2 linked regions of the Homo sapiens genome follow. The protein of the gene in region 1 interacts with the protein of each later gene in a pairwise test. Each region holds a gene or a part of one and is shown on either strand. Other genes may lie near its edges. The genes, in order: MOV10 and CEP152.

Region 1 (3,917 bases):
GGGGCAGGGCAAGTCTATGATGACTGAAATGTGAATGGTGACTCCAAGATTCATGCAGTGCCCTACCCGTACAACAGTGCTCCACAGCCACATTTACCCTAACTTCCCACTTCCCCAATCCCCACCCTTTTTTTTGAGACAGAGTCTCACTCTGTCACCCAGGATGGAGTGCAGTGGCACAATCGCACTGCAGCCTCAAGTGCCCAGCTATTTTTCATATTTTTCATAGAGATAGGGTCTTGCAATATTGTCCAGGCTGGTCTTGAACTCCTTGGGCTAGTCTTCCCCAAGTGCTGAGATTACAGGCATGAGCCACTGCACCCGGCCCCTACCTCTCTTTCTGATGGCTGCTTAGAAGCAGGAGCATTTCGGGAGTGGGAAGGAACTAGAATCTGGGGACAACTGCTTGGTGCTGGGGGAATCAGAGTGCAGGCCCCAGGTTTGTGCTCAGACCCCACCTGCTTAATTGCCTCCACTAACGTGACAGTCTTGCCGGTGCCTGGAGGCCCAAAGATGATGTAGGGGGCTGGACGGGTGGTGCCCGTAACAATGTGCCTCATGGCCTGCAGCTGCTCTGGGTTTGACTCCAGACTCCGGTCGTACAGCCTGGCAGAGGGACCAGGAATGTGAACTTGAAGTCATCCAGTGACCCAGAGGCCTCCCTGACTCCACCCCCTGTGCCCACACTCCAAGTGGCTCCAGAAGCTCCCTGCCCACAGTCTCACTTGAGTTTCACATCTGAGGGCAGCAGCGGGACGTCCCGAGGTGCCACAGGAAAGAGCATGGGCCACAGCAGCCAGCGCCCTGTCAGCTCCAGGGCACGGTGCTGGACTCGCAGCGGCTGGCGGTTGAAGGTAAAGTTCACCTTGAAGGTCAGCCCATCCACAAAGCGGCTCAGGAGGCTTTGGGCAGAGAGAGGTGGTAAGAGTTTGTTGGGGCAGGGGAGGTGGGCAATAAAGGGCCAGAACTTTCTCCACCAACCAGTGTCCCAACCCCTCTTTCCAAGACCTCTATGCAAGTTCTCTAGAAGAGGAAGCTGCCGTAGCATCTCAGGGTACCCCTGAGGAAAAGTCTCCTGCTCTGCCCCGGGGTCTCATTTATCTCAGGGAGAAACACTCCTCCTCCCCTGGGGTCAGAAGTCTGTAGACCCTTCCAGCAGCTCAGGGTTCCCCCAACACCCACCTCATGGAAAAGCTCAGCTTGACACGGTCCAATTCCACCTTGTGCACAAAGCCCTTATATGTGATGGGGTCCTCCTGGTGTGTCTCCGAGGACAAAAGGGCAAACAGGTGGTCGCCCCGTAGCACTGAGGGGCGGCTCTCAGTCACTCCAGGAACCTATGGGGTGTGAACACAAGCAAGCTTCTGTCCCAGGGATGGACGCTGGAGGGCCCAGCCCCCAGGTTCCCCAGACCTTTAAGGGACAAGGACTGAGACTGGCCTTCTAACCTAAGACTCAGGGAGTTATGCTATCCCTGCACCCCTCTTTCCTTTCATACCAGCAGGAGTCAGGGGAAGAGGAAGAAGACAAATCCTCCGAAGCTGCCCAGAGATGCCGAGCCCAGGAACCCGGAGCCTCCAGTGCAGCTGCCCTCTTGGCCAGCTCAGTTCCTGCTCTGCCTATAAAAATCCTGTTCATCAGTTAATCGGGTTGCTAAAAAAATAATTAAAAAAAAAAAAAAAAAAAAACGGACCAGGCATGGTGGCTCACGCCTGTAATCCCAGCACTTTGGGAGACTGAGGCAGGCGGATCACTTGAGTCCAGGTGTTGCGAGACCAGCCTGGCCAATGTGGCAAAACCCCATCTCTACAAAAAATACAAAAATTAGCCAGGCGTAGTGGGGCATGTCTGTGGTCCCAGCTACTTGGGAGGATCACTTGAGCCCGGGCGGCGGGGATTAAAGCGAGCCAAGATCATGCCATTGCACTCCAGCCTGAGCACCAGGGTGAGACCCTGTCTCAAAACAAAAACAACAACAACAAAAAACTTGTTCAAAACTCACTTCCTGCAGTAATCTTTCCTTGAACAAACTCACCCTCTAATTCCCACCTGCAATTGTGTGTAGAAATCCATTCTCGTGTGTAATTTTGGGCTTATATGCACACATTGAAAATCCAAGAGCCAGAAAGAGCTCTAAGAATTATCCAGTCCAGCTCTGTGCTTTTCAGATAAGGGAACTAAGGCTTAGAGAAAGCCAGGGACTTACCCAAGGTGGTAGCAAAGCCTGGACTAGAACCCAGATCTTCCCCATTTCCCTGCTCCAACACATCTTTGGGCACAGGATGCCCACCCTGCTTCTTGCGGAGCCCTGGGAACCACTTCAACTTTCCTCTTGTTCTGCCCTGCTGTCAGGAATAGTTCTGCCCACAGCCTCTAGCTTGGCTGGCTTGAGCCCACCCTCCTCACACTCAATCTGAGCCCTGACCTCCAGCGTGAGCAGCCTGGGGTTCTGGTCCACAGGGTCCCAGGTCATGGGCACCGACTCCAGGTCATAGTGCCGGATATCATGCTCCATCTGCAGTTCCTCCAGGTGCAGCAGCAGCCGCAGCTTCACCTCATAGTTCCTCCACTTCAGGGCTGTCTCCAGCTGGGCCCTGGAAATGATGGTTGGGAGGGGTGAGTGGGGGCAGGAACAGGATGGGCCAGACAACCCCTATGCCCAGGAGTATCCACCTTCTCCCACCTGAAGCTCTGGAACTAGCGTCAAAAAGCAGAGAAGACTAGAGGGATACAGAAGTGGATGAGAGTCAGAGGCCCTGAAGAAGGAAGCCTTGGCTCCTGCTTCCTTGGATGCCCCTGCCCCCACCTCACCCGACTTGCATTTGCATGGTGGCTCTTATGGCCAGAACATTCTCCTCCAATCCTCTCATGACTCCCACCCTCACCTCATTCAAATGTCCTTCTCTGTTCAAACATCACTACCTCAAACAGGCCAGGACTAACTGGCCTTCTGCAAAGCAGCACCAACCCATTCCCTAACCCTGCTTTAGTTTCAGTATAGTTCTGTTCATCTTTTTTAGAGACAAGATCTTGCTCTGTCACCCATGCTGGAGTGCAGTGGCATGATCTGGGCTCACTCACTGTGTCCTCAACCTCCTGGGCTCAAGAAATTCTCCCACCTCTGCCTCACAAGTAGCTGGGACTACAGACATGTGCCACCACACTTGGCTAATTAAAATTTTTTTTTGTAGAGACAGAATCTCACTATGTTGCCCCAGGCTGGTCTTGAACTCTTGGGCTTAAATGATCCACCTGCCTCGGCCTCCCAAAGTGCTGAGATTACAGGCATGAGCCACTTACACCTGACCTGTTTAGTTCTTCACAGCACTCATCACTCCATGAAATTGTAACAAAAATGCTCATTGTCCCCCATTAAAATGAGCCAGGCCTTCATTTGACTGGTTCACCTTGAATGGTGCTTGGTGTATGGTGCGTGCTCAGTAAGGGAATGAATGAATACAGCCTGGGAGGCTGAGGACGGAGGTGCCAGGGCAATGCAAAGAAGCCAGTAGGTAAAAGACGGGAGAGTGCGGGGTGCAGAGGGATGGTACTTACTTGATCTCTGCGATCTCCTTAGGGGCAGTGAAGATACTTGTTCCCTGAAGAAGCATGGGGAGCAGCTGCCTGAGGCGGGGAGGTGGGTAGTATGTCCCCAGCGCCATACTTAACTCCAGGTCATAGCCCTTAGCGCTGCAGAATCGAGGGAAGAAAACACAGAAAACCCCTCACCCTCCAACACTCTGAGAACGCCCCTCTGGGGTGGATGCACAAAGCCCTCCTGCAATCCTACTGCTGAAGGGAAGTCAGCAGCCTCGCTCCAAGGGTGGACTACTCTCATTTTTGGAACATGCGATACTTGGAAACCTTTAAAACTATTATCTAAGTAATAAATGATCACTAGAGAAAAAAATCAGGTA
Region 2 (3,917 bases), on another chromosome or scaffold:
TAGCTTACTGCAACCTCAAATTCCTGGGATCAAGGGATCCTCCCACCTCAGCCTCCCAAAGTGCTGGGATTACAGGTGTGAGCCATGATGCCTGGCCCACTGCAACTTTTTAAAACCCACTTATAATTTCTTCTTTTTCTCATTCTTTATTTGCTGTTTAAAATCTTTTCTATCATTTCGAGGGATGGAAGCAGCAATAGGAAACTGATGGGCATGCTCAGTCTGCCTACTTAAATTGGAAACTGTGTACTCTTTTTGCGTAAACTTCTAGTTTAAGTAAAACATACAAAACTTCACAAATTAACTCTCACTCCTTACCTTCCCTGCCTTCTTCATACTGAAAATATTAAATAGCTAAAGAAGAAAAGATAGAAAAACCATTTGGCGACTCACTTTGACATACCTGACTGTGTAGTTTTGCTTTGGGACTTACTAGAAATAGGTGTTTCCAGTAATTTTGCCATTGTAGCAAGTTTGCTAGCAGCATTCATAATCTTTTTCTCAGCCCTGTGGGGAATTCCAGAATATTAAAAATATAGTTTAAAGGAAAAAATGAGTTGCCTTAGCCCCATGGTTTCTGTTTTCCTATTGGCTCTGCCAACATTTAGGGTAGCACAGCCATAAACCTCTCTTAACCCCCTATGGCTGATCATGTAGAAATAGTTAATTTAGTGGTTAAGGAAAATGCTTTAAAAATGATAACATGTTGTCCTGGTAATCTCAGGACACATTGTTCAGACTGAACTCACCCTTCTTTTCCATCATCCTGCAAAATCTGTTGGAGGCAAATCAAATAATATTTGCGCATCTTTCGGGCGGTTTCTTGACGTTCTCGCAGTACCTCTGCTTTTACCATTTCTGCAGCTCGTTCCTTACTCTCCTGAATATAACGAAGCATGTCACCTATAGGGAAGTGAGAAAATGCCCACAGAATGTATGTTTATTAGCACTTTTTCAGAAACAGGAGGGGCAGACTTCAGATCAATTTTCTGGTAGATGAAGTGATTTTAAGTATAGTTTAAACATTATACTTTCCACAGTCATTAAAATGGAATATTTTAGATCATCATTTTGGTAGACTCAAATGAGAAGTACTCTATAAGTTCTTTCGGAATGATGACAGCTACATATAGTAAGGAAACATGGCATATTCCCCAGCTAAATTTTGTCATATTCTAAAACACTTAGCGAAGAAAATACTGTAAATATGAGGTACAGAAACTTAGTATTTCAATTGTACATTATGTCCAGTTAGGAAAAGAGAAAAATAAAATATAGAGAAAAGGTTAAGCAGAAAGAAAGGAAAAAGCAAACACAAAGACAGAAGAAAAGGAGGCAGTATGAGCTGGAGAGACTCATTCTTCTCTAGTGCTCTGAAAATTTACGTTCCATTATTTATTGAAAATTCTTTCAGCAGCACTTTTTGAGCATCTAACTAAATATAATATTACAATTCATAAGAGATATGTACAAAATGAGACTACAAGGAGGGTGATGGGACTTATAGTTGGCCTCTGAAATTTACATATAAACATAGCCCACAGCTTTCAAGTTTTTTTTTTTAACTCAATATATCTTTGATTAGGACTACTATTAGCTAAGGCTAACTTTTATTTTTTTTTTTAATAAATCCAAGACTACATCCTACATCTAGAATTTCACCATCTCTGTTATATTAAGGATACCAATTCATACAGGAATCTTCCTGTTAATGTCAGTAAGCATCTGAAAATTAGTGGTTCTATGCAAAAATACTAACTGGGAGACTGTTTTTCATTATTTGAAATGGAAAATGAAATGCAGTACATGTCAAAACAAAACCTCCAACCAACTTTCTAAAAAATAACTAAAACATAATATACACACATACATACAAGTTATCACATTAGGATGAAAACATGCTTAAAATTCCACTTCCCAATTAATACATTATTAACAAAAAGTTGCGTTGCTTGTAGCAATATGCCCTTTATTAGCACCAGTAACAACGGAGAAGCAAATTCCCTTATAAATACCGAATGAGCTTTGTAGAACATCTACACGTGATTCTGAATCTACCAATTATATTTGAAACTTCAGACTTTTCCTGCTCTTTTTGTTAAAAAGAAATGTAATTTTAGGAAGTTAATATACATTTTTCCTATATAAACACTACTTATTGTTTTGGGACATATATCCATTCTATGCATATTAGAATTAGAAACCAAGAAGTATTCAAAACAGGGAAAACACACATCAGGAGAATGCTCTACAGGATATGCTGGCACAACCTGGTACTGACAAGGACTTGATAAATTTATAGCTATGAGAAATAATAACCAGAAACAACAGAACAATTGCTAACTAGATCCACTTCTACAGTCCTTAAAAGTTTATGGTAGGAGGCCGGGCACAGTGGCTCACGCCCGTAATCCCAGCACTTTGCGAGGCCGAAGCGGGTGGATCACCTGAGGTCAGGAGTTCGAGATCAGCCTGGCCAACACGGTGAAACCCTGTCTCTACTAAAAATACAAAAATTAGCTGGGTGTGGTGATGCATGTCTGTAATCCCAGCTACTCAGGAGGCTGAGGCTGGAGAATTGCTTGAATCCAGGAGGCGGAGGTTGCAGTGAGCCGAGACTGCACCACTGCATTCCAGCCTGGTTGACAGAGTGAGATTCCGTCTCAAAAAAAAAAAGTTTATGGTAGGAAGTAATAGTTAATTGCTCATTTAAAACCCATGTGACATTTTCTTTACTACAAATTAGTTAAGTTGTAAGATTATTAACTTTTCAGTTTAATACTAGTGTCCAAAAAGAAACAAGAAAATCAACAATATAAACATAAGACGATTCTCACATCACTTCCAAAAGATATTATTTGGGAAAAATGATCAATGACTACATAATTTTGAAAAGGTATCAATAATCTCTTTTAAGATTGAAGAAAAAGGTAATTTGGAAAATTCCCTAGAAGAACTACTGCTGGTAAACTCTGAGTTTACTTTAACAGTGATAATAAAAAAGGCCCAAGCCATCCTTAAAATCTTCAGAATTAAACTTACATTTAATTTTTTTTACAGCTTTAATGTACTGCCCACGAAGTTCTTCCAAGGCTCCCCCACTGCATGGCAGGCAAGCATTTTCAATGGCCCCTGCTGACAATGACCTAAAAAACAAACCAAAGATTACAAAAACAGAAATGGTAAGTGAAAAATTTCATTTGAAAAATATATATGTATCCATATACTCTAATAAAGTTAACTGAGAAGTGCTAAAAATCTCATCTAGAACAATCTCCACTATACAGTTATTTAAAATAGGGGAAAAATGGAAACAACATAAATGTTATGGTTGCTTCAATAAATAACAGTAAATCCACATGAAAATTTATGCAGGTATTGAAAAACATATGTAGGAGAATATCTAATAACATGGAGAAATGCTTATCTAGTAATATTAATAAAAAGTTATAAAATACCTTATACTATAGCCTCAATTTTAAAAACACATTGTGCATGTGGAGTATGTGTAGAAAGAGGCTTAAATGATATAAAACAAGAGGTCACTAGAGGGTATCTTCAGGAAATAAGGTTTTGGGGGATTTTCTTCTTTTTTATACTTTTTGCTGTATAACAAAAAAAATTGATACTTAAAAAAATTTAAAGATACTTGTACTTAGATTTCTTTAAAATAGCACTTTAAAATAGTAAAAGTATACCTTGGTGGTGTTTTACAAAGTGTTTGCAATTCTTCCAATTTATTCTTCATGTCGTTGTTTTCTTCTATTAATTCTTCAACAACTTTATTATTCTCTTCTATAACAGAAAGTTTATAGTATATTAGACAGTTAAAAATTTTTTAAGCCTTCTTTTCCCTTAAGTTCCCAATACAAATGTTTATAGAAGAGACTGTGCAATTTCCAGTCGCTTTTCTGTAA

What was found.
Region 2: the proteins of MOV10 (region 1) and CEP152 interact in binary tests that used the Homo sapiens proteins (3 or more experiments, as listed by UniProt).

What each region holds. Positions count from the first base shown.
Region 1 is NC_000001.11:112,691,438-112,695,354, reverse strand, and holds part of MOV10 (helicase MOV-10), read right to left. Parts: intron 3,691-3,917; coding exon 3,556-3,690; intron 2,595-3,555; coding exon 2,426-2,594; intron 1,338-2,425; coding exon 1,183-1,337; intron 903-1,182; coding exon 726-902; intron 607-725; coding exon 459-606; intron 1-458.
Region 2 is NC_000015.10:48,741,198-48,745,114, forward strand, and holds part of CEP152 (centrosomal protein of 152 kDa), read right to left. Parts: intron 3,796-3,917; coding exon 3,699-3,795; intron 3,147-3,698; coding exon 3,043-3,146; intron 904-3,042; coding exon 750-903; intron 508-749; coding exon 404-507; intron 1-403. UniProt on the Homo sapiens protein: Necessary for centrosome duplication; the function also seems to involve CEP63, CDK5RAP2 and WDR62 through a stepwise assembled complex at the centrosome that recruits CDK2 required for centriole duplication.